Regions from separate parts of the Homo sapiens genome. Here regions 2 and 3 are each linked to region 1. The links come from fine-mapping of genetic effects on gene expression. A gene starts in region 1. Each other region holds a variant in brackets. All regions are shown on one strand. Distances are from middle to middle. Region 1 holds the start of NDUFA10 (NADH:ubiquinone oxidoreductase subunit A10). Region 2 overlaps NDUFA10 (NADH:ubiquinone oxidoreductase subunit A10). Region 3 has its middle 6.9 kb from the start of MIR4786.

What was found.
Region 2: its variant is fine-mapped to the expression of NDUFA10 in monocytes (TOPMed, PIP 0.96).
Region 3: its variant is fine-mapped to the expression of NDUFA10 in tibial nerve (GTEx, PIP 0.99).

What each region holds. Positions count from the first base shown.
Region 1 is chr2:240,021,611-240,029,788 of GRCh38, reverse strand. It overlaps NDUFA10 (NADH:ubiquinone oxidoreductase subunit A10), which reads left to right and starts at 4,447. Exons shown (of 10, transcript NM_004544.4): 1 at 4,447-4,562; 2 at 7,449-7,617. The coding sequence starts at 4,488. OR6B2 (olfactory receptor family 6 subfamily B member 2) reads left to right here. Exons shown (of 1, transcript NM_001005853.1): 1 at 1-298. The coding sequence ends at 298. RefSeq lists an enhancer at 3,623-4,452 and a silencer at 4,261-4,520.
Region 2 is chr2:239,971,778-239,979,955 of GRCh38, reverse strand. All of the region lies in intron 9 of NDUFA10 (NADH:ubiquinone oxidoreductase subunit A10), which reads left to right. Among named protein-coding and RNA genes, the nearest start is that of MIR4786, 33 kb to the right of the region's middle. The variant A/G (reference allele first, on the strand shown) is at 3,946.
Region 3 is chr2:239,945,894-239,954,071 of GRCh38, reverse strand. It overlaps a transcript of NDUFA10 not described here. Among named protein-coding and RNA genes, the nearest start is that of MIR4786, 6.9 kb to the right of the region's middle. RefSeq lists enhancers at 2,417-2,916, 7,415-8,178. The variant A/C (reference allele first, on the strand shown) is at 3,888.

The DNA of each region.
Region 1 (8,178 bases):
CATACTGTCATATTGGCACATCACCCTGGCTGTCCTGCGCATCCCCTCGGCCACCGGCTGCTGGAGAGCCTTCTCTACCTGCGCCTCTCACCTCACCGTGGTCACCGTCTTCTATACAGCCTTGCTTTTCATGTATGTCCGGCCCCAAGCCATTGATTCCCAGAGCTCCAACAAGCTCATCTCTGCCGTGTACACTGTTGTCACGCCAATAATTAACCCTTTGATTTACTGCCTGAGGAACAAGGAATTTAAGGACGCCTTGAAAAAGGCCTTGGGCTTGGGTCAAACTTCACACTAAGACAACTAAATGTCCTAGAGTAAAATCTGTAGTGATGAAACAACATTGTATGTGGCACTTTGTGCTCTTTAAATTAATTTTTAAGTTAAATTTAACAAACCTACAGAACTAAGTGAAATTTAACAAACCTACACAACTGTGCACAAGTAACAAGCCTTCGTCTGCATATGTTTTCACAAAAGGACTGTGCTCATGGAACCAGCTCCCAGATCAAGAACTAGAAGCTGCCTTCACGCCCTCTCCCAGTCATTAACCCTTCTCCACAAAAAGCACTGTCCTGACTTCCAAAACCAGATGCTAGCATTGGTGTTTCTGAGGGGCTTACACATAAAGTATGTGCCCTGTTATGTTCAGCTTCTTTCATTCACCGTGTTGCTTGAGTGAATCCTTGATGTTTTTGCATGTAACAATAATTCATGCATTCTCATTGCTATCCAATATTCATAATAAATAATACATTTATACTGTATAATACACAATGCATAATACATTCATACTGGGATAATACATATACTGGGATAATGCATATACTGTATTGTGTATTATATATACATAATACATTATGCTGGGTGAAACCCTGTCCCACCTGTCCCAGCAGGTGTGAGCCACTGTGCTCATCCATAATTTATGCATCTAAACACAGATAAGGTAAGTCAAAATATAATGTCATAATCTTATGGGACCACCATCTTATGTGCCGTTCAGTTCATCATTCACCAAATGTCATTGTGTGGTGCACTACTGCGTCAGTTGAGAATATTTGTGCTGGCTTATTTCTGGATCCTCTGTTCTGTTAAATTGATCTACGTATCTATCAATATCACACCCTCCATCCATACAACACAGTCTTGATTTATATGATTATGTAGTAAATCTTAACACTGGAAGAGTGACTCCTCCCACTTTATTCTTCTGCTTCAAAATTATTGTGGCTATTGTACAGCCTTTATATTTTTATATAAATTTTATAGTAAGCCTGTCAATGTCTACAAGAGAACCTCGCTGAGATTTTGCTAGAAATTCCATTAAACCTAAAAATCAATTTGGGAAGAACTGACTTCATTACTCTGTTGAGTCTTTCAATCCATGAACATAGTAAACCCCTCCAATTATTGAGGTCTTCATTCTTTAAATCAGTGTTTTGTACTTTTTAATATGCAGATTCTGTGTGTGTTTTGCTGGATTTAGACCTAAATATTATATTTTCTTTGAAGCAACTGTAAATGGTATTCCATCTTTTATTTCAGTTTCCTTCTGTTTGTTGTTAGTACATAGGATGCAGCTGATTTTCATATGTTGACATTGCAGCCTGCAAACTTGCTGCGCTCACTCATTAGTTCCAGGAGGTTTTTGTAGATTCCTTTGGGTTTTCTATGTGAACAGTCATGTCAACTAAAAATAGACAGTTTTATTTCTTCCTTTCTGATCTGTATGAATTTCATTTTTTATTTTTTGCCATACTGCATGGCCTATTACTAGAACTTCCAGTGCTCTGTTGAATAAGAGTGGGCAGAGCAGATATCCTTGCCTTGTTTCCTCCTTAGAAGGCAAGCATTCAGTCTTTCATGATTAAGTACAATGATGCAGAGTTTTCACGCATGTGCTTTATCAAGCTGAAGCAGCTCCCCTTTAGTCCTTATTTGCTGAGAGCAGTTTTTGTTTTTATCATAAATGAGTATTTAATTTTGTCAAGTGATGCAGAAAACTGCATCAGGCAATCTGGTCATAGATTTCGTCTTTCACCTGCTGGTAAGGTGTATTACATTGGTTGATTTTCAAATACCAGATTAGCCTTGCATCTTCTGAATAAACCACCTTGGGTTGTGGTGTATGATTCATTTCATATAGTGTTGGATTCAATTTGCTAACATTTCGTTAAGGATTTTTGTGTCTAAGTTCACGAGAGATATTGGTCTATTGGGGTCTGAAGTTATTTTCATGCTGTCTAATATAGTGTGGACGTCAAAGCGACCTCCTAGAGAACATTCCTAGCTCTCAGAACGTTCTAGCTGGGGAGGGAAAACGGAAAAAGGGGGGCGAGAAGCGGAGGGACGGGGAAGTATATAGTAATACTTCCCTTGAACCAGTAAAACTGTAATGCCCAACCTGGTTTTTACTAACTGTTTTCAGACTCTCCCTTTTCCTTTAATCACCTAGCCCTGTTTCCACCTGAATTGACTCTCCCTTAGCTAAGAGAGCCAGACAGACTCCATCTTGGCTCTTTCACTGGCAGCCCCTTTCTCAAGGACTTAACTTGTGCAGGCTGACTCCCACCACATCCAAGAATGCAATTAACTGGTAAGATACTGTGGCAAGCTACATCCGCAGTTCCCAGGAATTTGTCCGATTGATAACGCCCAAAGCCCCGGGTCTATCATCTTGTAATAGTCTTAAAGCCCCTGCACCTTGAACTGTTTACTTTCCTGTAACCATTTACCCTTTTAACTTTTTGACTACTTTACTTCTGTAAAATTGTTTTAACTAGACCCCCCCCCCTTCCTAAACCAAGGTATAAAAGTTAATCAAGCCCCTTCCTCGGGGCTGAGAGAATTTTGAGCGTTAGCCGTCTCTCGGTCGCCAGCTAATAAAGGACTCTTAATTCGTCTCAAAGGTGGTGTTTTTCTAACTCGCTCAGGTACAACAAAACATCCACGCAAACAGGTTGTGAGAAGTTACGTCTGCGTGCTGTGATACCTAGAGGAACCACTACGAAAACTATACATAATGATATTTCCCAAGACATTATCAGTAAATCAAGATGGAATTCTAAAAAAATGTACTGTATCCATTGGAAGGCACAAAAAAAAAAAAAAAAAAAAAATGCAAAGGAAACAAGGCAAAAAACAGCAGACATGAACCCTAAAGCTTGTTAAATGGATTTCAGGTGCCCTCCAGGATCTAAAAACCAGACCCTCCTGCGTTGGGGACCGGGAATCCGTATTTTTGACAAAAAGCAATTCTTCAATTATAGAAACATCCATAGAACCGGCCGTAGTTTACACAGCTGCATTCCCACTGTTTTACAATCGCATGATCATTTCTGAAAAGTTGAAAACAAAGTTAAAGAATATTTAAGGGGTTAAGAACAAAAAGCCTGGGGAACACAAAAGATTATAAAAACCCTTCCCAACAGCAGGCATACTTGGAAGGAAACCTCACATGCAAGGCTCCTTCGTGGAGCCCAGAGCCCAGGTCCTGACGGGAGCACATTTTAAGAGATGGACTTGCCGGCGCGGTGGCTCACGCCTGTAATCCTAGCACTTTGGGAGGCCGAGGCGGGTGGATCACGAGGTCAGGAGATCGAGACCATCCTGGCTAACATGGTGAAACCCCGTCTCTACTAAAAATACAAAAAATTAGCCGGGTGTGGCGGCGGGCGCCTGTAGTCCCAGCTACTCGGGAGGCTGAGGCAGGAGAATGGCGTGAACCAGGGAGGCGGAGCTTGCAGTGAGCGCGATGGCGCCACCGCACTCCAGCCTGGGCGACAGAGCGGGACTCTGCCTCAAAAAAAAAAAAAAAAAAAAAAAAAAAAAAAAAAAAAAAAAGAGATGGACTTGGAGCGTGTGCTTTTGTTTTCTATGCTATTCAATGTGTTCACAGCAGGTCCCCTGGATGAGACCACTTAGCCTTCAGCTCCGGAGGCGACCCAGGCCGGCCTTGCCAGGTCCCTCTCCCTGACAGGCGCCCCGCGACAGGGGTCCCACCCCGTCCCTCCGCTCCTCGCCCCCTCTTTTTCCACTTTCCCTCCCCAGCGAGAACGTTCTGAGAGCTAGGAATGTTCTCTAGGAGGTCGCTTTGACGTCCACACCGCGCCTGGGGGATTCTGCGGGGAGCACAGGACCCTGGGACGAGACGCAGAAGTCGCTCCACGCCCTGGGCGGCCTCAGCTCCCGCGACACCGCAGCAACTCAGAACCCAGGCAGGGGCCGGGCAGCCAGCATGCTGCCCCCACGTTCACCTCCAACTCCCACCTCTCGGCCCTCGCCCCAACCCGCAGGACCCTGGCAGCGCACTGGCTGTCTCCGCGGAAGCCCCCGAGGGCCTCGGCGCGGCCCCGCCCCCTGGAAGGTTCCCGACAGGCGCCGCGGGCACCCCGGCCGTGACGTCACGGCAGCGCGCCGGCCGCGAGAGAGGGCCCCGTCGCGACCGCGTCCCCTTGGGTCCTTGATCCTGAGCTGACCGGGTAGCCATGGCCTTGCGGCTCCTGAAGCTGGCAGCGACGTCCGCGTCCGCCCGGGTCGTGGCGGCGGGCGCCCAGCGCGTGGTGAGCGGGCGGCGGGGTGGCAGGGTGGCGGGGTGGCAGGGTGGCGGGGTGGCGGGGTGGGGAGCAGTTCCACATCTCCCCCGGCCTCTGGCGGCGGCTCCCAGGTCGCTCTCCGGGTGGGTTTGGGGGACCCCTCCTGCCTCCGGAATTGTTTGGTCTTTGGTCGTGGACAGACCTCAGGGGGCCACGAGCTTCTCCAGGCCATTTTATCTCAGCTTTAAGCAAAACGCTGGAGCGCGGAGGTGATCAGGGCCCCGAGGCTGCCCTGATGCGGGAGGCCCGTGTGCAGGTGGCAGGCCGGGGGCACACGCGCTTGTCATTAGATAATTCACGTAGCAGCCCTGTCAAGAGCCGTTTAAAGGTCGGGCCCTGCTGGGTGCTTGGGTGATGCCATGTTGAGCAGACACGGAGTTCAGTGCTTGTGTCCGCTTCCTTTTGCCTTTACTCTGACTGACTACTCTCATTTCTTAGCATTTTGCCCCCACCTTCTTCAGTGAAATCGTTTCATACATTTGTAACACAGTTGGATTGCTTTGTCACATTCTGCCTTACATCTTGGGATCCTTCTACCTAATGCGTTTTTTAAAATGTGCATACATTGAGCGCATTCTTTGTGCTATAAGGTTCTATGGATTTTTTCTTTGTGCTATAAGGTTCTATAGGTTTTGACACGTGTGTAATAGCATGTCTCCACCATTATAGGTTCGTACAGAGTAGCTTCACTGCCTTAAAAAATTCCCCTCTGCTTTACCTATTAAACCCTTCTTTTTCTCCAACCCCTGACAACCACAGATCTCATTAACATTTCCATAGTTGCCTTTTCTGGAATGTCATATAATTAGAATCATACAATATATTGCCTTTTCAGACGCCTTGAATACTTGGAAATATCTATGTAAGATTCACTTATGTCTTCGTGGCTTGGTAACTCATTTCTTTTTAATCACTGAGTAATATCTCATTGCATGGATGTACTTCAATTCATTCAGCAATTGAAGGGCATCTTGGTTGCTTCAAGTTTTTGGCAATTATGAATAAAGCTGCTGTAATCGTGTACATGCAGATTTCTTTTTGGAAATACATTTTTATATCATTTGGGTAATACCTGGAAGAGCGATTACTCATGTAGTAAGACTAGTTTTCTAAGAAGCTGCCAAGCCATCTTCCAGAGTGACTGTGCCATTTGACTCCCACCAGAAGTGAAGGCTCTCCTTGTTGCTCTGCGTGCTCGCCAGCATGCGGGGCTGTCGGTTACTTTGGATTGCTATCCATTCTGATAGCTGCGTAGTGGTATCTTGTTTCAACTTTGGAATATCTCATGATATACAGTGTTCATCTTTTCATATACTTATTTGCTATCTGCGTTAATTTCATTTGCGAGAGGTGTTTACATCTTTTGCCCATTTTTAAATTGGGTTGTCTGCTTTGCCTTGTTTTGTAACTTGTTTCTTCCTTACTCTTCAGTTATCAAATCAAGATCGAAAAATATCTTGATATTTCATATTCTCCTGTTTTATTTAAATTTCACTATAAAGTATTTTAATATTTTTGTGTTTTTCTGAGTACTTAGTATTCCATAATATGGATATGCCTTAATTTTGTTTAACTATTCCTCCGTTGTTGGACATTTAAGGGTTTCTATTTGCATTTTTGGTGTTACATCATACTTCATTGAGCATCCTTATAGGTCAATCTTATGTATATACTCTTTGAATGGATTCCTAATGCTGTAGACCCAGCGTCCTCTAGGTTTCATTACCATTAGCAGTTTAGGATGGTACTCATTGTCTTGTCCTAACTCTGTAATCATTTTTTAAATTATTTCTCATTTTGACACATGAAAAACTAATGTTTCCTTGTTAATAGTCTTTTGTTTTTTTGTAGCAAGGTTGACCACTTTTTCATGTGGTTTTTGGCTATATTTTATAATTTTAAAATAAGCTGTGTGTTTTTATTCTTTGTTTTCTTATTGTTCTGTACAATTTCTGTATATAGTAAGGTTATTACCCCATCATATCTGTTGAACTTCTTCAGTTTGTTTTACTTTTGGTTATGTTTCTTTTCTTTTTTTGGAAGGAATGTTCCCACTTTAGTGTGGAGAGTAAATTGGGCTGCTGGAGACAGGCATTGAAGCAGGTCTTTGCCTTGTAGATGAGAGGTGTGAGGGTGCCGACAGAGTCAGCACATGGCATAGGGAGGCGATGCAGTGTCCAGAGAGTCTGAACAGTTAGGATTTTGTGTGTAATTCTGCAGTTGAAGGAAGGAGAAAGGTATCAAAGACGACACTCAAATTTGCTCTCTTTTGCTTGTTAGGTAGTGGATATTCCTTGCTGTGAGGGAAAGCAGACTTGGGGGCTAGGATATGGATGTTGCATTTCACCTTAGCTCTGTTACCTTCAGGTGCCTTCAGGACATCTAGGTGGAGCTGTTTAATAGGCAGTGGGGTAACGAGGTCAGGACATGGGGACAGAAGCTTGGATTAGAGAAATGTTTTTTATTCCCTTCCCTTCACTCCTGAGCTTCCCTCCATCCCTGTCTTTCTTCCTCCCGTCTGTCCGTCCATCCATCCATCCATCCACCCCTCCCTCCCTCCCTCCAATTTTTATTGAACATAGTAAACATATTTAATAAAAATTTCAGGCATTGTTCCAGGGCCTGAGGATTTAGCAGTGAACAAACAGACAGTATATCTGCCTTTAACGAAACTTACATGGACAGAGTGGTGGGGGATAGACAGATAATTAAACAAATTAATAGGCAATAAAGATGTAGATGTTGGCATTTTTATCACTAAGAGGTTTCTTGGTATTTTTACCTAATAGTTACTAATGCCTACAGGAACCAGAGTGGTCACAATGTGCTGCTGTGTGATTTTGTGTTTTTCAGAGAGGAATTCATAGCAGTGTGCAGTGCAAACTGCGCTATGGAATGTGGCATTTCCTACTTGGGGATAAAGCAAGCAAAAGACTGACAGAACGCAGCAGAGTGATAACTGTAGATGGCAATATATGTACTGGAAAAGGCAAACTTGCAAAAGAAATAGCAGAGAAACTAGGTATGATTTTATGTTACACAGAATGATACCTTTTTCTCAGATATATGGTTGCTTATTTCACTGGTTTTTCTTCAATATTAATATTAAATAATATTAAATATTTAATAATTGGGCCTAAGGTGGGTATTTCACATTTTTGTTTATTGAAAAAGCTGTTTTATAAAACGAAACAAGAAAAAGCTGTTTTTAATCTTTTATGTTTGGAAAATTTGTGAAAATCCATGCTGGTTGTCAATTTGAATTGGAATTTTATGTGGGCAGTGTAAGCAGGGCACTTCCACATAAACTGTCGTGTTTGAACTTTGTGACAGCCTCTGAAATAGAGCCGAGGATGGTACTCACTCACAGATGGGTGTACTCCTGAGTGAGCAGATGCCACATAGCTGGGTCCCAAAGCCAAGGTTAGAGCCCCTTCCTGACTCCTGGTGCAGCTGAGTGTCCATTGTACCTTTCTGTAGCACCTGCATGACAGCAGCTGCCCGCTAGAGGGGGCTCCTGTGGTTACAGGGAGCAGTCCTTTCAGGAGGAACCTGGATAAGGGCACTGTGCAAGCTCTTTCGC
Region 2 (8,178 bases), 50 kb after region 1:
AAGGCAGGAACAGGTGGACATGGTCTGGAGCTAGAGAAGAGCCCGTCATGGTGAGGTGTGATGCGGGTGGGGTGAGCTTGAGCAGGGAGTGAGCTGAAAAGGCAGCAGGCCAAGGTCAGCCGGGGTCCGCAGCTGCCACGGGGACCTCAGTTCAGCGGTACTCCTGGTGAGGTGGTGGCGTTGGTGCGCCAGAGAGTGGCATCATCTGGGTCTCAGGTTTAAAGGGTTGCTCTGCTTGCCACGTCGAGTATCAACTGTGGGGGCAAAGGCAGAGGGCCAAGGCGGTCAGGGAGGGTCCTGGTGGTGCAGGTGAGAGTGCTGGTGCTATGGGCGGGGGCGCTGAGAGTAGGCACTGTCTCTTTTCCCGAGAGCCCCCACTTAACAGGGGCATTGTTGCCCCTCCTTGCCCAGCCAAGTTGCTTCTTGCTTTTTAGGTTTTCAAAATTAAGCAGACTATTGCTGAAGGATTCCAGCAGAGGGAGTCAGGGAAGAGGTGCAGGGTGGGGAGCGGGCTGCTGAGGGCCTGGTGGTGGCCTTTCCTCACCGGACGGTGGAGCCCTGGGCCTCTGCTGTGTTGCCTCTCCTGCAGAGTTGTGTGTGTGACTGGAGGAGAGGGGTGGAGCCAGTTCAGCCAGCACTGGGGTCTAACTATAAAGCACAATAGAGACAGGTAGTGGCAGCTGGGTGGGGTGGGCTGTGGGGTGGGGTTCTAAGATAGGAATTTGCCGTTTGTAACAAAGGAACTTTGGTGTAAAGGCTTTAATTTAGGAATCCCAGGCATACTTCCTCATGGATCTTTTCCTGACCCTTATGTTTAATTTAATTTACTGATGGATGGATGAGCCCAGAAAGGGTTACACAGGAGCACACTTCTCAGGGAGTGGTGTGACGCTGGGGAGGCTCGCCCACCCTGTGTCTGAGCTAATTTCTGAAATCTGTTTGGAGCTTATATATTGAAACAAAGCCGTTATTCTAACTTTCACATGAAAAGAGCTCCATGTCTTTTAAGATACTTTTTTATTAGAGCTCAAGTTCTTTTATAAGCAGAAACTCCTTTTTTAGGTTTCTAAAAAGCATACAAACGGTGGGAAGACAGAATTCTTCCCCAAATCACCTACAGGTGGTTCGCCCACACCTATTTCAATAGACCTTATTTTAGCGACTCACCTTCATCAAATGGTTCCAAAGTGTTTCAGCCTAGTTTTAACAGAACAGCAGCTCTTCCTTTTCAGACGCGTAGTTTTCATAACATTTAATTAAATTTTGCAATTGCAATGACAAGTACAACTGGCGTCGCTGCTGGGAAACAGACCACTGACTCATACCACTTGGTGGGAGGGACAGAAGTGCCTGTGGGCCAGTGGGAGCAGGTCCTGCCACTTGGTGTCCTGTGTAGGCTGGCTTGTGAGTGATCCAATCGGGGTTGGTCAGAAGAGCTTTCTGCTGAAAGGAAGAAGAGCTGGTGAAGAGGACCAAGCTCGCCAGAGTATTAGGAGGCAGGCCAGACTGTGTGGGCCCTGGGCGCCAGCAGAGGAGCCTGTAGAGGAGCTTCAGTGTCTGTCAGAGGCCGCAGGAAGGTCAGGGGTGGTGAAGGTTGACCATGCCCAGGATACTGCGTTGATGACCAGGTCATAGGTGAACCTTGAGAGAAGTGTCAGGAGACTGGTGGGAATTAGAGATTCCATCTTCTATAGCTTGTTATTTTGTCTTGTTTTTAAGGGCTAAGGCATTCTCAGTGTGTTTATAGGCAAAAGGGTAAGTGCTTGTGGAAAGAGGGAAAAGATGCAAGAGAGGAATGGGACCGTTGATGGAGCAGGGATCCCAGAGGCAGGGGGGCCTCTTGGCTCCTCAGAGATCCCAGTTCACCAAGCAGGGATCCCAGAGGCAGGGAGGCCTCTCAGCTCATCAGAGATCCCAGTTCACCAAGCAGGCGTGGCCAGGCCAGATCACTGTTTGTTTCATAGGACCCCAACCTAGTCTGCTGAGGGGAGGCTGGAGGGGTGGGTGAGGGCTCTTTCCTCCCATGGGGAGACACTCTGTTGGATTGGCCATGTGTGGAGTGGAGGCACAGAACCTACATCCAGGGTGCTGCGAGCGTAGCTGAGAAAGCCAGCTGACCCATGCTGGGTGGTTGACCAGGCCCAGTGACCACGTTGGCCATTGTCATTGAAGCATCTCATTCCTTGATTAAAATCCACTGGTGCTCTTCACATCACAGGGCCAGTTCCAGACAGTAGATTACAGCCATTTGATGTGTCATATTTACGTTCTCCTAGCGTGAAAGCAGCAGTTTGTGTGCTTAACATTATAAATATACATGGTTGAACATCCTGGATGTGATGGCTAATGAGTCTCTCTGGAACAGATTGGTTTTGGAGATGTCTTGACTGGCCTTTAAGGGGCACGGTCGTCCAGCTGTGGAGCACTCGTGGAGTCAGATCTCCACACAGTGGTTCAGGTCCCTGTGAATCCTCTCACCTGCGTGAAGGGCCTGGCTGCCTCTTCTAGGTGTCTGGGAAGCCTGCTCTTTCCCATCAACTGCACCCTTAAATGGGGACTCCAGAAACAGGAGCAGTGTCAGGGGCGAGTTAGAGGGCCTAGCACGCCATACTCAGGGACAGTGGCGGGACGCTGGCAGGAGCAGTGGCAGCTCATGGGGCTCCGGATCCCAGGTGCCTGTGCTCGCCCACCTGCACCTGCCAATGGATGGGTGACTTTGAACAACACGAGAAGACGGCAGTTGGGGTCCAGTGGCCTTCGTTACTGTTAGGAAGAAGGTCCAGTTGCCCATTCTAGACTTGCTGTCTCTCTTGTCTGTGTTTCCTTATCCCTGAACCTGGCTTCCAGTCTGAGTTTAGGGAGATCTGCTTGGCGGGGGAAGGTTTCCCAGCTCTTCCTGTGGCTGGATGGAGTCAAAGGCACCAAGACCTGAGTCTGGGAGGGGTCCAGCCAACTCGTTTTTCTTCTTGGGGTTCTGTAATTTTTGCTTTGCTTGCCCTTGTGTAATTCTAAGAGGTGCACAGCTGCTGTTTGGGTTGCAGTTGTCTAAATCAGTGGTGCCCCAGAAGTTGCCAGTGTTCTGGGAGCTGCTCTTACTGAGAGAATCATGTCTTTTTACTGGAACTCCTTCCTAGGGCCACTCTGAGCGCTCTCAGCCTCTGCCACAGCTCATAGTTTCTGGCTCCGCATGGTGGAGTCGCCTCGCCTTCTGCTGTGGCTCCTCCTTGTCACTCTTCAGTACACTCAAGGCTGTTCAGCCTGTCGGCGGGAGCTCCACCTTCCCTGTGCATTCGTCTGGCCCCCATTTCACCGCACTCAGTGCCAGACACTGCACCAGGGCTGGAGACACAACCCAGTTTCCACACCCTGGAGACTCGGCAGAGACACGTGCGCAGATGATGCGATGGAATCCCAGAGGCTGTGGGGACCCGTGAGAGGGTAGGGATGTGCGGTAGGTTGCTGTGTCTGGGGTCTCAAGACTCGCACCTCACAGGATGGGTATGAGTTTGCCAAGTAGAGTCTTGGGGGGGGCAGTTGAGGGAGAAGGAGGATGGCTGTGAAGGCCGGAGGCTGCAGGGCATGGCCGGCAAGGGCCATGATGTGAAGGGAAAGGAGACAGAACAGGTGGGGAGGGTGGCGAGTGGGGCGAGATCGCACAGGGTCTCAGGGTGGACCGTGGAGCTTACTTTCCATCCTAAGCCACGTGGGGGTTACAGCAGGCATGAGATTAACCCGAGGAGTTCAAATATAGCAGAGTCAGAGGGCATTGCACATTGTTATGTAACCAAGCCTGGAATTGCAGTGTGAAGAACTTCTCATCAGCGTTGATGGGATGATTAAGAAAGGTGGTCAGAGATGTTGGAATTTGAACCAGAATTTAAGATTCATAGATACTGAGGATTTATGGGCTTTATTTAGAGTAACTTCTTGACTATTAGAAACCCT[A/G]TCAGATAAATTTTAAAACAGAGACCCAGAGCTCAAGGTAGGACTACTAAATGGATGATGTGGAGTGATGGTTAAGATGACATTTTCCTGGCTGGTGCTGTGGCTTTGGTTGGGAACAGCGAGAGATACAGAACCGACGGTCTGGGATCCAGGAGGGTGGCTGGCAATAGGGAGGAAGTGTGGACGCTTGATCCAGGAGGCACTTAGGATTAATCTGGCAGCCATGGCCTGCGAGGTGGGGAGAGGCTGGTGGAAGGAAGGATTATGGGCTGGGGGCTGGAGTGTCATGGGCTGAATAGGACCTGACAAGAAGGGGAAAGAGCAGAGAGACTGAGGCTGAAGAGGGCACCACTTCTGCTGCTGATCGCAGTGGTAACAATACCAGGTCACCCCGAGCACCTTCTGTGTGCTGGGCACTATGCTGTTGCCACAAGAAGACACTATTATTCTTATTCCCATTTGCAAATGAGCAGTTTGACACAGTGGCTTTCTGAGGTCCTGCAGCTTCTGGGAGGGCAGGACTCACATTTGGGCAAGTGTGGCCGGGCGGCCATGCTGCTTCCCATTTCCCTGCTTCTTGCAGGGCCCCTGGGGTGAGCACCATGCACAGACTAAGGTGTGGGGGTTGTATTAGGCTGTTCTCGCATTGCTATAAATAAATGTCTGAGACTGGATAATTTATTTAAGAGGGTTTTATTGGCTCACGGTTCTGCAGGCTGTACAGGAAGCATAGCAACTTCTGCTTCTGGGGAGGCCTCAGGAAACTTACAATCATGGTAGACGGTAAAGGGGAAGCAGGTACATCCTAATAAGGCAGGAGCAAGAGAATGGGGCAGCAGAGTGTCACATATTTTTAAATGACCAGATCTTTGGTGGCAGAGTGTCACATATTTTTAAATGACCAGATCTTTGGTGGCGGAGTGTCACATATTTTTAAATGACCAGATCTTTGGTGGCGGAGTGTCTGTCACATATTTTTAAATGACCAGCTCTTTGGTGGCGGAGGAGTGTCACATGTTTTTAAATGACCAGCTCTTTGGTGGCGGAGGAGTGTCACATGTTTTTAAATGACCAGCTCTTTGGTGGCGGAGTGTCACATATTTTTAAATGACCAGCTCTTTGGTGGTAGAGTGTCACATAGTTTTAAATGACCAGCTCTTTGGTGGCAGAGTGTCACATATTTTTAAATGACCAGATCTTTGGTGGCAGAGTGTCACATATTTTTAAATGACCAGATCTTTGGTGGCAGAGTGTCACATATTTTTAAATGACCAGCTCTTTGGTGGCGGAGTGTCACGTATTTTTAAATGACCAGATCTTTGGTGGTAGAGTGTCACATATTTTTAAATGACCAGGTCTTGTGTGAACTCAGAGTAAGAGCCTACTCATCACCAAGGAGATGGCCCAAGCCATTCATGAGGGATCAGCCCGCATGATCCAAACACTTCCCACCAGGCCCCACCTCTGACACTGTGAGTTACATCTCAGCATGAGATTTGGAGGGGACATCCACACTCTCATTTGATGAACATGCTGGTGACATGGGTACACAGACGAGTAAAGAAAGACCTTTTCACAGCAGAGTGGATCTTAGATTTTCATATGAATAGAAGGGTTTATGATTTTTGGTTTTGTTGATCCTGTGACCTTGGAGTGTTTGTCTTGTCACTTGTCTGGCTAGTGTCCTGATGGCTCTCAGGCACCTGTCCACACTCTAGGCGACACCCAGCGCTAGGGCACTGATGCCTCAGGAATCCAAGTTTTCATCTAAAACAGCGTTTTCATTGGGTGCAGTGGCTCACGCCTGTAATCCCAGCACTTTGGGAGGTTGAGGCGGGCGGATGACTTGAGGTCAGGAGTTGGAGATCAGCCTGGCCAACATGGAGAAACCCTGTCTCTTCCTAAAAAACACAAGAATTAGCCAGGCGTGGTGGCGAGCACCTGTAATCCCACCTACTCGGGAGGCTGAGGCATGAGAATCACTTGAATCCAGGAGGCGGGGGTTGCAGTGGGCCAGAATTGCCACTGTGTTCTAGCCTGGGCAACAGAGTGAGACTCCATCTCAAAAAAACTAAAATTAAATAAAAATAAATAAGTAAAGCAGCATTTTCAGTGGGGCATGTGTACCTGGGGTCTGAGCAATATATATGAACATGTTTTTCCTTAGCGACCCTCCTCATTTTGTGCCCGGAATTGACCCTGTGTAAGTTCATGAAAATACTGAATGTGTGCAGGACAGGCTGCTGATTTTTTAAAGTCACGTTTTAAACATTGTATCAGGTCACTTTTTATTTCTGTACAGCCCTTCTTTGGATTAGACAAACTGTGATTTGGTTTCTATTTTACCAGTTCAGTCTCTTCAATGGAAGGAAGCCAGATGCTGTTAAGATACTGTGCTCCCTCCTTGAAGCTGATCGTTCCCTCCTTGAAGCTGATCGTTCCCTCCTTGAAGCTGATCGTGTCCAAGATAGTTGCTAGGACAACAGAATCTTCTGTTTTCTCGCCTGCTATTTTTGTTTCTTTTACTATCTCAAGTTGTTTTCATTTTCAGTATTGAGTTCTCCCTTACCATTTTTTAAAACAGAGATGTTTTTATTAACTTTAATATGTTAATACTGTATGTTCTTGCCTTTATGAAATTCACCTTACAGAAAGGCACTAGGATCAGTTTACCTAAACATGCGGGAGACGGAAGGCCAGACGTGACTGCTTTAGGTTCCTCATGACATTCAGACCTTACTTGGAACTCAGTTTGGTATCTAGTTGTGTTAAAATACAAATTTTCAGTTTATAAGTTACTTAATTAAGTTTGAAAGTAAATGCGTAATGCCTTCAGTGTTCTCTCCACTTTGTGCCCTGCCACCTGCACTGTGGAAATTAATCATAGAAACTCGGCGTTAATCTGTATGCCCGAGTTATTTACATCTCTGTGTATGGAAAATTATCAGCATGTGTCCCTCGAAGAAGATGATGAGCATAAAAGGTGATCTTTACCAGGTCCATTGGTTTGTATGTGATTGCTGTGGTATGTGGTATCTGCCTGTCTACTGATGGAAAGTGGTAAGATACTGTCTTACATGCAATCTGGAAAATCAAGTGCCCTGACTTTACAGTGTGTTACATATGATTGTATTTACTTTAGAATTTTTAGAAAGCATACCATTTTCAGGTTTAAAACAAGCACTTAGGTTAGGAGCTTTTCTATTATTCACAGCTAATAAGAGTTAAGGAGGATTAAGACATTTGAACTATTGTTAATACTCATTGCAACAAATATGACAGCTAAATAATGATATATTTGTAGGAAGCTATAGTTTTATGTGTTAAAAAATAGAACACACATTTTCAAAATAAAAATATGGTTTTTGAAAGTTGACTGTTAAAAGATTTTTTGAAAATTTATGCCAATTTTGTTACATTCGATTTGTGTTCTACAGTAATGGAAATTAAGGGAAATTGTGTATCAGAGAAGTGTCTTTAATATCTATAGTGCTCTTCTTTAAAATTAATGAAAAACTCCAAGCAGAATTGATTAGCATTTATATGTTATAATGGAAAATAGGAGTTGGAAACTGGAATTTCCAAATCACCCCAGAACTTTGCAGTATTTTGAAGCTCCTTAGTGCATCTAGAGAGAGGGGAGCCAGTCATGCTTGGCATAACCCATTGCTTGCCCCAGCAGAGTGAAGCCCACCCGGTACACAGGCCCTCACTCAATCGTTTTTTTGTTTAATTTATATATTTACAGTAATACAATAAAGGGTTTGTTGCTGGAATATACACATATTTATTTATATGTATAATATTTATCAATATATTTACAAATATATGTATACATGTACACACACACACACACACACACACACACACACATCCTTCATGAAAACTCTTTCAGCTGGGAAACTGAGCATCCTTGAATGTCCCTGAGGTGACTACTAGGATATAAACATCCCCCAAGAGAAGTGCTTTGAGTTACATACGAAAGGACCTGCAGAAAGATTGGAGTCACCTTTATCTGGGTAGAGTGGATTGTGGACCATAACCTAACAGACACCCAAGAAATCTCATAGCTGAGACCTTGAGCAACATACCTTTACTATATATATGCTGATTGACAGATAAATGGAAAATTGGAGGGAATGAGGGGAATTCAGTAAAACCTCGTATAAGTAGTATGTGATTGAGGAAAGAGCTTATTGTGTTATTTTTAAGAGTTAGCACACTAAAAGTTAC
Region 3 (8,178 bases), 76 kb after region 1:
GGCAGTCACAGCCTGACCGTCAGGGGGAACCCACTCTCACAGTCCTGGGGTGGTCACTCAGCGGTCCCGGCAGGGGGAACCCACTTTCACAGCCCCGAGGCGGTCGGTCACTCAGCCTAGCCCAGCCCAGCAGGTGGAACCCACTCCCCACTGTCACAGCCCTGAGGCGGCGGGGGCGTCCTCCACCTCGCTCTTCCTGGAGAGACGCCAGTGTGTGGGTTTGGAAGCGGAGTCTATTTTAAGTTTGCAGTTCCTGAAGGAGCCTGTGTTGGCTGTGCTGTCTCCACATGGTCACAGCCTTGAAGCCTCCAGCCTTTTAAGGACAAGCCTCTGCCTGGCTGCCTGTGGTTGGGGCAAGCCGCTACTTACGTTCGCGGTGCCTGTTGCGTTTTCCCACCTAAGAGGGCACAGGAGGTGGTGGAAGGGGAGTGGAACTAAGGTGGGGGACTTGAGAGCAAACTGTGAGTGTCCAGAGCTGTAGGAGGTTCGGAGAAGACACCGAGTGCTCCTCCTGCAGGGTGAGAAACCCTCCTGTTTCTGATTGCCTCATGCACCACCATGCTCAGGTCACCCGGCAGGCACCCCTCCCTGGGGCTGAGCCCAGATCAACGCGGAGCAGTTTCCTAGGGCTGCGGTAAGCAGCTGCCTTGCACTTTGCGGCTAAAGCAGCACAGATCTATTATCCTAAGTTCTGGAGGCCAGGAGGCCTCCAATCAAGGTGTCAGCAGGGCTGGTCCCTCCTGCAGGCTCCTGGCCTTCCCAGCTTTCCTGGTTTCCTGGCCTTCCCAGCTTCTAGAGGCTGCCTGCGTATATGGTCTTGTGACCCCTCCTCTAGTCACCTCTCCTCTCTGCTGGCCCCTGCTGCCTCCCTTGTGCAAGAACCCCTGTGATGACATTGGGCCACTCAGTCCAGGAAACCCCCCATCAAGATCTTCAACCCCATTTGCTCAGCCCCTTTGCCACCCGAGGTCCCATGTCCCAGGAGCTGGGGATCAGGATGCGGCTGTCCTTGGGGCCCTGTTCTGTGCACCACAGTCCCCACCTTGGGCCGACAAGAAGGCCCTGTGGAGACTGGCAGCCACAGGCCCTGCTCTGGGTGGCCCTTCAGCTTCTTCTTACCTCCCACGTGGCTGGAGAGGAGGGTCTCACCCACCACAGAGATGGGCCTTCTGCCTCAGAGAAGGCGTGGAGCAGCGGGGCTGGCGTCGGCAGCTGTGCCTTGCGTTTTCTGGCAGCTGTGAGCAGCCCTGCCTTGCCAGCTTGGTCAGCAGAGCCTCGCGTCTGCCGTGGGCTGGCTGCACCCCTCCGGGGCCCTGGCCCAGGCCCAGGCCCATCCCTGTCCCCATGTGGTGCACACCGTGGGGAGAGGTGGACATAGGCTGTCCCATGTGTGGTGACAGGTGGTCTCCATAGCCATGTCTGGCACAGGGTTGCCCATCCAGGGGAGGGAGGCCTCTGGGAGGAAGAGAGGGGAGGCTGCTTTGTCCATCGTGGAAGTTCAAAAAACCCAGAAAAACCCCTACAGGGGTACCTGGAAGCTGTTGGTGCTCAGAAGCTCTTCCCACCTACAGATCTTGTGATGGGGCCTGCAGGTGAGTGCCCACCGGCTGCCAAGGAAAGCCTCAAGCCGCACAGTTGGGGCCCTGCCGGCCAGTGGGGGTGGGTTTGCTGCGGGCTGCACAGTGCTGGCCTCCTGAACTCTTCACCTTCCACAGACAACAGCATCCTCATCTCTGCCCAGGAGGTCTGCTCCTTTCTCCTGGGCCCCCCTCCCCACTCTGCCTTCAGAGCCCTTTGTGCTTTGGCCCCCACCCTGCCAGCCCCCTCCCTGCGCCCCCCTCCTCACCACCCAGTCCTTCATGCAGCCTTTCCTCTCCCTGGGCTTGCAGGTCTGCCCCACCAAGCCCCCATTCCAGGACGCAGCCAGGCTGTCTGCCCTCTGCGAGCAGGTGTGGCACATGTGTTGCTGGTTCATCCCGTGGGCTCACAGGCGGCTCCTGTGCAGACCTCTAGTGGGTGTGGGACTTCAGGCAGCAGCCTTTGGCCCCTGCCGGCCCACACCCCAGGACCCATGCCACAGCACCTACCGAGGGAAAGAGACCAAAGGGCATGCACCATCTCAGGTCTCGAGAGGGACAGAGCCAGGCAGGAGCCTGGGCAGGCGTCAGCAGGGCCCTCGTGTTCCTGGGTCCCACTGTCCTTCCCGCTGCCCAGGGCATGGCCAGGCCGGAGGCCTCGGTGTGCCGTTGGGACCAGGCCTGGGAACCCCTCTGGCTTGTTTCCCCTTTTTAGTTACACAAATACTTTATGATCACTTCTGAAAATTTAGGAATTTTAGGAATGAACAAGGAAGATAGCTTTAGAGTTATATACATTTTCTTTTACTTGCCATTAGAGTCTTCCTAGACCCTGTTTTTTAAAGATGCCTGACTCTCCACGCCCGGCTGTGACCAAGCCTGCCGCCCCTCCATCATAGCTGCTTCTCAGTGTCCGGCACATCCTGTACTGGGTGCTGAGGGGACCCAGGGAGGGTGTGGCGAGAGGAGGACCCTGACCAGGCATCCCTGGGACACGGCTGCCCAGCACGGGCATTTTTTCTTTTATGGAGGCTCAGAAGTGAGGCCTGAGAACACAAGAGAAACGGCCTCGTTAGACCCTGGCCCCACTTTCTTCCCAATCTCAACCACCTTCGACGACTCAGTCATCAATGTCTGCGTCTCTCCCCCTGCTGTCCTCTGTAACCCACGGGTGGCTGACGCAGCCATTGTCCCTGTCTCCAGGGCAGCAGCACAGGAGCGTGTGGCCCTCCCGAGGCCCCTCCCGCACGCCCTGTGGGCACCCCGGGTCCCATCGCTGCAGGGTTCCCTGTCTCAATAGTAGCCTCTCCTTCTGATGTCTTGTGGTCAGATGTTTGCTGGAAAGGGCCCCAGAGCCCCAGTGAAAATCCAGACTCAGAGATGAGACTGAAACGGGAAGTGTCAGCATTGTTTTAGGGTTTTTCACTTCAAAAGCCAATAATCCTCTGAAGCAGGGCCCTTCTGCACTCCTTCCAGGCTCAGCAACTACCTGACAAAGGAACGAGGGGCTGAAGCGGAACGTACTGGAAGCCCTGGCCAGCAGGTGGCCAGTGGGACGCTGACTTGAAACCTCTTTGAAGCAGTCATGGGAGCAGTGGGAACAATTGCCCCGTAATTGTTGGACAGTGTCACACAACTAGACAGGCACCTACTTGAATCACAGAATGGAGCTGTGTGGTGTTTCTGTGACACTGGGATGAAGCTGCAGGCACGAGCAGGGGTCTGCACAGCCGACCACGGGGACAGACAGGCGTGCGGCTGCCACTCACCTGCACGTGGTGGCCATGTGACATGCACAGGCCCTTACACCGCCCCAAGCTCCTATCCGTACCAGTGTTGGAAGAAGCCGCTCAATCAGCAGTTGGTTTGCTTTGATTTTACCTTAAAATCCTGACGCTATCCTGGTCATAATGAGCTCTCATCCGTGTGTGGGGTCCTTACACCGAGGACACCAGGTCTAAACACAAGTGGGAAAGGTCAATGTTTACATCTACACTTCAGATGCCTAAAAACAGAGTCTTCGGGGAGCAAGGAGGAACCGTTCCTCAGATTTCCAAAGGTCATGCCCCGAGGGGGCAGCTTGGTGGACTGGAGCCGTCTGAAAAAGAAGGTGGTGGGTCGGGAGCCCTGAGCCTCCTGCTTGGGCCAAGGCATGCCCACAGGAGACCTCTTGCCCGCTCAAGGACTCGGGGGCCTGAGGGATCCCTGAGGAAGCTGTGAGTGGTGGGCAGCCGTCTGGCTGTAGGAGATGCATCATCTCAGCTTCTTTATAACAGGGCCAGCCTGTACTGCTGAGGGTGGACCAAAGCC[A/C]CACAGCATGGGGCGGAGGGGCTATAAGGACTGGAAACCTTTCTAAATCTCTGCCACCACTTCGTGAGCCCACTCTGAGGTGTGCCCCCTCCCTAGATTCTCACAGCAAGCTTGGCTGCAGGTGGGGACGGCCTGATTTTTCTCCCATTATGTACGTAAGAAAATAGGCTCTAGGGTGGGACCTCCCCAGTCTCCCAGATGGAATGTGGTGAGTCCAGGTTCAGGCTCAGTCAGGGCTCTCCTGAGACCAGGACCCACAGGATGAACAGATATGGAGACAGTTACAAGGATTCTGGAGGCTCAGAAGCCCCAAGATCTGCTGTCTGCAAGCTGGAGACCCAGGAGAGCCAGTGGTGCAAGTTCCAGTCCAAGGGAAGACCAATGTCCCACCTCAACAGGCCAGTGTCAGGTATGGTGGCTCGCGCCTGTAATCCGAGTGCTTTGGGAGGCTGAGGTGGGAGGATCGCTTGAGGCTGAGTTGGAGACCAGCCCGGGCAACATAGATGAGGCCTTGTCTCTTCAAAAAGTAAAAGTGTGGTGGCACGCGCCTGTTGTCCCAGCTATGTGGGAGGCTGAGGTGGGAGGATTGCTTGAGCCCAGGAGTTTGCACTCCAGCCTGAGCAACAGAGAAGACCTTGTCTCTAAAAAACAAACAAACAAAAGCAAAAAACAAAAAACAGGCAGAGAGTGGGAATTCTTTCTTCCACCACCTTTCTGTTCTTTCCAGACCCCCAGTGGACTGGAGGATGCCTGCCCACGCTGGGGAGTGCCGCCTGCCTTCCCGAATCCACCAGGTCACATGCTGATCTCATCCCCCACAGATACACCCCAAAAATCTTGTTTGACCAAATACCTGGGCAGCTGTAGTCCAGTCGGGTTGGATGTCTAAAGCTGATCTGTACAATTGCTAACTCGCTTCGCCCTCCGAGCCGTGCATCTCACTCCTCAGACACAAATGCTGGTGCTCATTCCTGCCCCAAGCTCCTATCCGTATCAGTGTTGGAAGAAGTCGCTCAATCAGCAGTTGGTTTGCTTTGATTTTACCTTAAAATCCCGACACTATCCTGGTCATAATGAGCTCTCATACGTCCGTCCCAAAGAGGGACATGTGTCCATTGCATTCGTGGGGTTAAAGCAATGAGAAAGCCTGCAAGGCAGGAAGCTTGGGGTTGGGGGCTCCAGGGGAGCAAGGAAGGGTTGGGGGCTCCAGGGGCAGAAGGGGGTGCCCTGTGACTTCTGAGACACTGCATTTGAAGTAGAGAGCCTTCTCTTCTGGACTCCTGCACGCTTTATCTTTGTGTGAACTGTTCCCTGCAAAATAAATACACAGGCCTCTGCTGGCTCCTGCCTAGGCCAGGATGGCTCGAGGCTTGGTGAAGTCCCCAAGGAGGGAGGGCCACCTCGGCTGGCTCTAGTTTTTTCTGTCCCAGACACTGGAGGCCTGGATTTGTGGAAGATGAAGGGACATACTGAGTTGCGTCGTCAGGCTGGCATCTGAGCCACCTTTGCAATCCCTAGTTTGTCCTTGTATTTGGAACGCTGGAGGCTCGAGTCAGGATCCGGGTCCCACCGACGTGTATTTGTGCTTTCAAGATGGCTGGGGCTTTTAGCCTTGGCAGCTTTGCTCGGGCAGGCCTGCTGCTTTTTACATTGGGTTTTCCAGCGACTCCACTTACAGCTGCAAAATGGACAGTGGGCTGTAGACCCTGAACAACGTCAAGTGAGTGCATGTTTTGAACGCCTGTTACTTTTCCGTCGCCACTCATGGAGCGGAGGCTGTGGAGATGTCGGTTACTTTCTGTCCCCTGGGGGCTCAGGACCCAGCTGCAGAGCAGCCTTGAATGAGACCACAGGGAGCCTCTGAACAGGGCCTTGAGGGGCCAAAGGGAGAAGAGCAGCCTGGAGGCCATTGTCCGGAGCACAGCCTGGCTTCGTCTCTGGAATGCGTGGCTGAGGCTGGGAAGAGGGACGGACGTGTGGGCAGGGCCCAGGAGGTTCTAGCTCTTAAGTGTTGGTGGAAATGAGCTGCTATTTCCCTAAGAATTGTACACAATCCTGAACCTTGCTGCCGTTAACTGAACCTCTGGACTTTTGCTCAAACAGCTGTAGTGACGACAGAGCTTGTCCCCCGACCTCACCTCCTCCACCTCACCACCAGAGGATGTAAATTGGCTAACTTGGCCTCGGAAGACCAGCTTGAAGGGCAGGGCCACCTATGCACATGTGACCTCCATGTTCACCCAGTGCCCACGCTCAAGAAGGGCCCACACTTGATTTAATGTTCAGCTGTGGCCGTCCTGAAAGTCTGAACAAGTTTTGGACCAGAGCCTCCCGTTTTCATCTTGCACTGGGGGCCACAGGTTATGTCGCTGCCGTGGGCGTGTTGAGGCACCACCCCGTGCTTCCTGGAGCCCTCATCCCTCTTGCCATCTGGCAACAAGAGCTGGGCTGGCCTGTTGCATAGTCTTTGAGGCCTTCAGTGGATGGAGGAGCTCACGGCAGCAGGAAGGCCGGTGTGTGAGAGGAGCCCCGGGAGGACCCTCACAGGACCCTGGGCCTGGAGGCCTGGGGCTCGGCGGGGAGGGCGGGGCTTGCTCTGGGCCTCAGAGAGTCAGGAGCCGTCCCTGTCTGTGTCTGGTGCGCAGAGAGGGCGGGGCTTACTGGGCCCTGGTGAGGCAGGGACTGTCCCTGTCTGTATCTGGTAGCAGCTGCCTCCCGGTCTTTGTCCAGCTTCTTCCTTAGGCCGAGCATTTGGCTGTGGCTGCAGGAAGCCCAGCGGGGCGTGCAGAAGGCAGGCACACAGGACAGTCACTGAGCCATTTTCCTCTGTGGGCCTCAGGAGCTCTGTCCCTGGGGGCTCTGGGAGTTGGTGTGGGATGTAGGCCTTAGGCACCTGCATTGGTATAGGGCTGTCCTGGTATGACTTCTTGGTATTCCCAGGCTCGGATGCCTGCTGCCAGATAATGTCCAGGGCCTTGGTCTAAGCAGTGTGAGCAGGCGGGACGGCCCCAGATGGCCTGGCCTAGGCCTCCAGGGATTCTGTACCCATGAGGAAGGGGCTGCACTGCAGCCTGGATCCCAGCTCCTTACCCAGGATCCCACCCACACTACCTGCTGAGCACCGGGCTTCAGGACTGAGGAGTCCCATGGGAGGCACAGCACCCACCACCATGGGCTGGGCATCCGTCTCCTGGACACTGCCCTGGCACTTCACGCAGGGTTCCCTCCTTCCGCCAACCCTGTGAGGCCGTGGCCTTATCCTCATTTCACCAAAGGCGGCCTGAGGTTCAGAGAAGTTAGGCAGGACATCAAAGACACACAGCAGGCATTTCCAGCATGGGGCCCTCTGGCCCCAGAGCTTGTGCTTGTAGCCTTCTCTCTGCCTGCAGGAGCCTCACTCTGACTTTCCCCAAAATCTGACCAAAGGGAGTGAGTGCATTTAGCACACCTGGGCACACATCCATGTCAGGCGTGCCTGACAAAACCTCGGTCCTGCCTCCTTCAGGGAGGTCCTGCACCAGCGTCAGGAGCCGTTGAACTCAAAGCTTTAATGTGGACAACAAAGGGATTCATCGAGATGAGCTGGAGCTGGGCTGGAGAAGGTGTAGCGTCCGTGAGTGTTGACCTGGATACCTGAACGGTGTGGGGGTGTTTGTGATTGCAGTGAGCCCTTGGGCTTGAGACTCACTCCGTGGCTCTGAGCGCAGTGCCTGCGGGGAGGGCCCCGGAGGCATCACTGAGGGGTTTGCAGGCCCAGCACCTCATACAGAGCATGCGGGTTAACGAGCTAATTCCACAGAGGGTGGCAAGGGACAACGTCTTCCCCTAGTAACACACTACCCTTCGGAAACCCTCCCAGCTCATCACTGCACCCATCTCCCCGTCTGCTGGGGCTGGGGCCGGAGCTGTGGTATGGAGTGCAGGGCTCATGACCACCTGGGATTTGAGTGGCTTGAGTGGCCAGGTGCCACCTAGGAGGGTGACGGAGCCCCAGCTGGGGCTGAGGAGGAGCAAGTGGGAGGAGCGTGCAGCCATCCTTCCTCGACTTCGAGAAGTCACTGGAGCAGGGGCCGAACACACACAGCTGCCAAGGTGTGGCCCCTCTCTCTGGAAACCTGCAAGGGACACGTCTGCCCTGGAAGCCTGGGCTCCCTGTTCAGAACGGAATCCCTGGGGCCCTCCTCTCCTGTCCTGGTCTGGGGGTGCAGCTCATTATGTGAGGCTCTGGGCTGCTTCCTGTCCGCAAGCGGATCCCATTCTCAGCGCAGTGTCTTCCACCCTCCTGCTCCAG